Homo sapiens: one gene and its partner. The protein of the gene in region 1 interacts with the protein of each later gene in a biochemical or structural test. Each region holds a gene or a part of one and is shown on either strand. Other genes may lie near its edges.

Region 1 (3,500 bases):
TTTCCATCATTGCTAAATGCTCCTTACTATCGTGTGTCTAGAAATAAAATAAAAACAGACTTGGGGAAGATGACCACCAAAACAGACACAGTTAAAGCTGACAGCAAAAAAACTAACATTAAGGCTTGCAGAACAAACTCGCCAATGATTCCCTACATGGACACGGATAATTGCTTATATACTGAAAGATGTTTTAAATAAAACAATTATGAAAGAAATATGAATTAGTTTATTTATGCTTATCTACAATTAATAGTCTATAATGGGGGAAGCAAAAGTATTTATTCATATAAACAGGCACCTTTCTTGTGCAAAGCAAGGTTGAAATAGATCATTGTCACTTACTGGAAATACGGTAAACCCAAGATAGTATTCAATAAGAATGCATCCTATGCTCCAGACATCACATGGTTGGGACCACCCTAGGGCTGCAAAGCAAAGCAAAATTTAAGGAAAAAAAATACTCAATGTTTGTTAAAGAAATTAAAAAGTTAGTTAACACTAATACTTTAAAAAAAAAAACACATGTAATGTAGGCTGGGCACAGTGGCTCACACCTGTAATCCCAGCACTTTGGGAGGCCAAGATGGGAGAACTGCTTGAGCTCAGGAGTTCAAGACCAGCCTGGGCAACACAGCGAGATCCCACCTCTATTAAGATATATATATATCTGAATTGGCCGGGCACAGTGGCTCACGCTACAGGCATAATCCCAGCCCTTTGGGAGGCTGAGGCAGGTGGAACACGAGGGCAGGAGATCAAGACCATCCTGACTACACGGTGAAACTCCGTCTCTACTAAAAATACAAAAACAAAATTAGCCAGGCATGGTGGCAGGCACCTGTAGTCCCAGCTACTCAGGAGGCTGAGGTGGGACAATGGAGTGAACCCCATAGGCGGAGCTTGCGGTGAGCCGAGATCGCGCCACTGCACTCTAGCCTGGGTGACAGAGCAAGACTCCGCCCCCCCCCCAAAAAATTATATATATACACATATATATGCAATGTGATGTTTGAGCTGGAAGATCCTAAAGCAATCACTTAATCCAAGGTTAAATACAATATATATGGCCGGGCGCAGTGGCTTATGCCTGTAATCCCAGCACTTTGCAAAGCCAAGGCAGGCAGATTGCTCCAGGTCAGCAGTTTGAGACCAGCCTGCCAACATGGTAAAAACCCCATCTCTACCAAAAATAAGAAAATTAACCGGGTGTGGTGGTGGGTGCCTATAATCCCAGCTACTCAGGAGGCTGAGGCAGGAGAATTGCTTGAACCCAGGAGGCAGAAGTTGCAGTGAGCCAAGATTGCACCACTGCACTCCAGCCTGGGCGACAGAGTAAGTCTCCGTCTAAAAAATAAATAAATGATAAAAATAAATAAATTATATAGTGTTATATATAGTCTGGAATAAAATAGGCATTAAACAATTTTCTGAGATGGAGTCTCGCTCTGTCGCCCAGGCCGGAGTGCAGTGGCGCAATCTTGGCTCACTGCAACCTCCGCCTCCCGGTGTTCAAGCAATTCTGCCTCAGCCTCCTGAGTAGCTGGAACTACTGACGTGTACCACCACACCCAGCTAATTTTTTGTATTTTTAGTAGAGATGGGGTTTCACCATATTAGCCAGGATGGTCTCGATTTCCTGACCATGTGGTCTGCCCGCCTTGGCCTCCCAAAGTGCTGGGATTACAGATGTGAGCCACCGCGCCCCACCCTTGGCCTCCCAAAGTGCTGAGATTACAGATGTGAGCCACCGCGCCCCACCTGGCATTAAACAATTACATTTAAAAACCCTACCACATATTACAAATGTGAAAACAATTCCAGAAAGGTTAAGCCACTTGCTCAAATTCCCAGAGCTAATTATCTGGTACAATTGAGAGCTTAAAATCCATAATGCACTTCATGATACTTATCCCTTAAAGAGAATATGATAAAGCCCCACAAGTAAGACCTAAAACTGCTAAAAAAATTTTAAGTCTCAATAAGGAAATACAAAGGTTCTCAAAGGACAATTAATACTCACCTAAAATAACTTCAGGTGCTCTATAATGTCTTGTAGATACCAATGTACTGTGATGTTCGTCATCATATGTTGCACTACCAAAGTCTACAACTTTAATATCTGGATTTATTAAGGTGCGTTCATCACGTTTCTGAAAATCATAAATGATGGTTAAGAAGGCATAAGCTATTAAGGCATAAGATACTTTATGAATATTTTGGAAGACTTACTATTTTGGGATTATACGCCTCTGTGTAGTCAGACTGCACAAATAAGATGTTTTCAGGCTTTAAGTCTGTGTGAGTCAACTTATTACTGTGCAAAACTGAGAATAAAGAGAAAGTTGCTGTAATCAGAAAACACCAAACCAAACCAAATCACAAAACCCCACAACAGGCCGGGTGCAGTGGCTCACGCCTGTAATCACCTGAGGTCAGGAGTTCGAGACCAGCCTGACCAATATGGTGAAACCCTGTCTCTACCAAAATTACAAAAATTGGCCGGGTGTGGTGGCGTGTGCCTGTAGTCCTAGCTACTCGGGAGGCTGAGGCAGGAGAATCACTTGAACTGGGGAGGCAGAGTTTGCAGTGAGTGAAGACTGCGCCACTGCACTTCAGCCTGAACAACAAAGCGAGACTCCATTTCAAAAAACAAAAAAACCCAACAAAAAACCTCTGATTCCTTTCCCAAAGAATGGTCAACATTCCAGTCTGCTAGAAAATCACCAGTAACTAAAACTTACTACCTCTTATGAAGCTTTCTTTTATGAGATATATCACGCCTTAATTTTTACCCAGCATTCGAAGTTACTATTTTTGCGCATCAGAAAAGTCTAAATCATAGTCTGCAACAAAGTACGTTGTTATATGGTGGATATCCTACTTGCTGAATGAAATGTACACTGCTGGATCAACAGCCTGTAATCAAATCTCTTCATACCTATTCTTCCTCCCCCTTTATTTTTAATCAAATAAAAATTGTACACACTTAGGATGCACATTTTGATATGTGGAATGGATAAAACCAGCAAATTAACGAAGATATACCAAGAACTTACAATTCACAGACTTGCATATCTGATATGCCATCTTTCTGATATGATCCAGTCGAAATGGTAGAAAACCATTTTCTTTAATGAAGTCGTAAGTACTAAGTCCCAATAGTTCAAAAACAATGCAAATGTGACCATGATGCTCAAACCATTCCAACATCTGGACACAGCGGCTACAAACACATGAAAAATAGCTAAGTATAGTTGCTCCTAATTTAAATATACCTGATACCACTTCCCAAGTTCTAATCTGATACTTACAAAGTACTGTTGGGGTCTGTTGTATTCAGATGTTCCAGAACTTGTATTTCTGAGCGAGCAGCTTCACAGTATCTATCCACATTTTTAACTATTTTTACTGCTACATGTCTACCTCCCCTGTTAGAAAGATGCATGCAAATTTAAGAATGACAGACATGATGCTCAATTCCAGGTATTACTGTCTTC
Region 2 (3,500 bases), on another chromosome or scaffold:
AAATGCAGTAGAGTGCTGAAAGTGATGCGTTGCGTTGCTAAGAATCAGTGAATTAAATTGGCATATAGAAACAAAATCTGGTAAGTTTCCTTTCTTATCTTTGAACAATACTTATAAAATTAAATTGTTTCTCCCCAAGACAGACATAGCAGGTAATGTGGCCAATTTCTCTCTCCTACATTCTTAATTCCCCATCCTCTCCTGTTTCCATCTGCTCATTCCCTATAATTTATATTTATATTTAGATCTCTTATTGTGTGGGTGTGAGTGGTAGAATTATGGAATCATAATTGTCTCAAGCTGCAACTTCTAGGAACAGAATTATTTAATATTTGGCTGTTTCTTAAAAGCTGATTTATTCAAATGAAATTGTTCTTTTGGAAACTTGCTAATCCTAAAAGGATCATCTTCCTGGAAATTTATTTTGCCATTTAACAAATTAGTGACAAAAAGAAAGCATTCCTAAAAGGACTCCTGTCTTCAGCCACAACAGCTCTTCCCGGGTCACCACGAGGCTGACTTCACTTAGTGGTAACAGAACAACCCCACTCGAGCAGCGTTCACAATTGTGGAAATCAAATAGTATTAATCATCGTGTTTTGCAGAAGTTTTAACATGCATGACAGATGATTATGGAGATAGCCACTGCTTACATCAATCTTTTTCTAAAACATATTAATCTGGAAAATAAAACTTTGCTGTCAAAACCAGATTTCATTGTATTTGATATTCATAAGATTCCTGCTCATAAATACATGATTGCCTTGTTTCCTAGCTGGAGGTGGGATCCACAGTCATGTCTATTTACCGTGAACAATGGGAGCTAGTACAGGCCTTAGCACTAAGGAGAGGACCCCAAAGGAAAAGGAGGATGCTGTGGACACAGGAGAGATGGAGGAGCACGTTCACTGTAGGACCTTGTGTGACAGCAAGAAATTAGAAGCAACCTAAATGGCCACAGAAAGGGGAACAGTTACATTTAAAAAGAGGAAGTGGGCTGGGCACGGTGGCTCATGCCTGAAATTCCAACACTTTGGGAGGCTGAGGTGGGTGGATCACCTGAGGTCAGGAGCTCGAGACCAGCCTGGCCTACATGGCGAAACCCTGTGTCTACAAAAATACAAAAGTTAGCTGGGTATGGTGGTGCGTGCCTATAATCCCAGCTACATGAGAGGCTGAGGCAGGAGAATCACTTGAACCCAGGGAGGCAGAGGTTGCAGAGAGCCAAGATAGCACCACTGCACTCCAGCCTGGGTGAGAGTGAGACTCCATCTCAAAAAAAGAAAAACAAAAAGAGGAAGTAGAGATACATGCACTGATACAAGAAACCTTCCAAGACATATTAAGTGGAAAAACATTTTGTAGAAATGCAGGATTATCTCACCGGTAAAAAAAAAAAAAAACCTAAACAACACAAAAACTAAATGTGAGCCATGTGCACAGGCATGGGCACACAGATAACATGTTGTACATGCACAGAACAAGGTCAGGAGAGGAGCAGTCACAGCCAACTGTGGCAGGAATTACATAGGGAAATGAGATTGGGTGGGGGTGTGTGTAGGAAGAAGAATCTTTGCCTTCAAACATGTATAAGTTGTCTGAATTTTTTACAAATAATCCTGAATAGTTTTTGTTTGTTTGTTTGTTTGAAACAGAGTCTCACTCTATTACCCAGGCTGAAGTGCAATGGCGCAATCTTGGCTCACTGCAACTTCTGCCTTCCTGGGTTCAAGCGATTCTCCTGGCTCAGTCTCCTAAGTAGCTGGGATTACAGGCATGCACCACCACGCCCGGCTGATTTTGTATTTTTAGTGGAGAGGGGTTTCACCATGTTGATCAGGCTGGTCTTGAACTCCTGACCTCAGGTGATCCACCCACCTTGGGCTCCCAAAGTGCTGGGATTACAGGTGTGAGCCACCGCGCCCGGCCAACACTGAATAGTTTTAACAAAAAGAAAAAATTGAGGCCGGGTACGGTAGCTCACACCTATAATCTCAACACTTTGGGAGGCCGAGGCGGGAGGATTGCTTGAGCTTAGGAGTTCAAGGCCAGCCTGAGAGACATAGTGAGACCCCATCTCTAAAAAAGATTTTTAAAATTAGCTGGGTGTGGTGATACACACCTGTAGTCCCAGATACTGGGGAGGCTGAGGTGGGAAGATCCATTGAACCCAGGAGACGGAGGTTGCAGTGAACCATGATCGCACCACTGCACTCCAGTCTGGGTGATAGAGTGAGAGCCTGTCTCAAAATAAACAAAAAGAAAAAAATAATAAAGGAGAAAGAGAGAAAGAAAAAGAAAGTGAAGGAAAAAGAAAGAAGAAAGAAGATACATGCAATAAGCTAAAGAAATGTCAGGAGGCTGAAGTGGGAGGATTGAGTTCTAGTCCAGCCTGGGCAACACAGCAGGGCTCTGTCTCTTAAAAAAGGCCGGGCATGGTGGCTCACGCCTGTAATCCCAGCACTCTGGGAGGCCTAGGCGGGCAGATTGCATGGTCAGGAGATCAAGACCATCCGGGCTAACACGGTGAAACTCCGTCTCTACTAAAAAAAAAAAAAAAAAAAAAAAAATTACAAAAAATTAGCTGGGCGTGGTGGTGCATGCCTGTAGTCCCAGCTACTCGGGAGGCTGAGGCAGGAGAATCACTTGAACCCAGGAGGTGGAGGTTGCAGTGATCCAAGATCACGCCACTGCACTCCAGCCTAGGTGACAGAGCAAGACTCCACCTCAAAAAATAAATAAATAAATAAAAGCTAAAGTAATTTGTAAAGGAAGACAGTCTAGAAAATTTTTGGTTCTGCCGTTTTGGTTCCGCAGTGAGACCAAGGCTAAGCGAGACCCAAAACTTGGGGGAGTGGCTCTTGCCAAGTCCAGATAGCTGTGCCCCTGACACAAAGAATACACCTTCTTAGAGACATTGCCTGATTTATGTTTGCTGGCTAAACAAGACAAGAGTCTTTGTGAGCCCTAAAGCTCAATTATTCTTTCTCTCGGAGTGAACAGTTGCAAGCTGTGGGAGAGAGGCTGTCACACGGGGCTCAAATGAAGCCCATATGCAGAAAGGAGGTTTCCAGTTGCCTGCATTTCCCTCCAGACGTCTTGCCACCGTCATCGTCATGACACACAGTTGCGGACACTTACTGAGTACTCACTATGTCTTAGGAACTACATTAAGTATTTGATATCCATTCAATCGCTTCCACATCTTCCAAAGGCATGAATCTACAGGAAGGATGAATCCTAGGAAACAATTTTCAGAAAGTAGCAGATGGAGGAAGAAGGAAAAAACTCCTCCTTTTCCTTCTCCTGGTAAATGATAATATTTTTACTCCTCGCAGATGGTGCCTCCCTGGAATATTTTCAGCAGTGGCAAAGGCAGATTCCTCTGGACTGCCTGGGGCTTTTCACTGCGGCTTTCACTCCTCCATTACCTTCCACTCTGGGACCCTCTTGGAATGGATGGTTTTGGGGTCATGTAAAGATAAAGGCAGAAGAGGTGA

The links. The genes of interacting proteins can lie anywhere in the genome.
Region 2: of the proteins of CLK1 (region 1) and CFAP251, one has a biochemical effect on the other in vitro, tested with the Homo sapiens proteins (one large-scale study listed by BioGRID).

What each region holds. Positions count from the first base shown.
Region 1 is NC_000002.12:200,854,659-200,858,158, forward strand, and holds part of CLK1 (dual specificity protein kinase CLK1), read right to left. Parts: intron 3,432-3,500; coding exon 3,315-3,431; intron 3,227-3,314; coding exon 3,060-3,226; intron 2,328-3,059; coding exon 2,233-2,327; intron 2,154-2,232; coding exon 2,024-2,153; intron 429-2,023; coding exon 346-428; intron 38-345; coding exon 1-37. UniProt on the Homo sapiens protein: Dual specificity kinase acting on both serine/threonine and tyrosine-containing substrates.
Region 2 is NC_000012.12:121,925,092-121,928,591, reverse strand, and holds part of CFAP251 (cilia- and flagella-associated protein 251), read right to left. Parts: intron 1-3,500.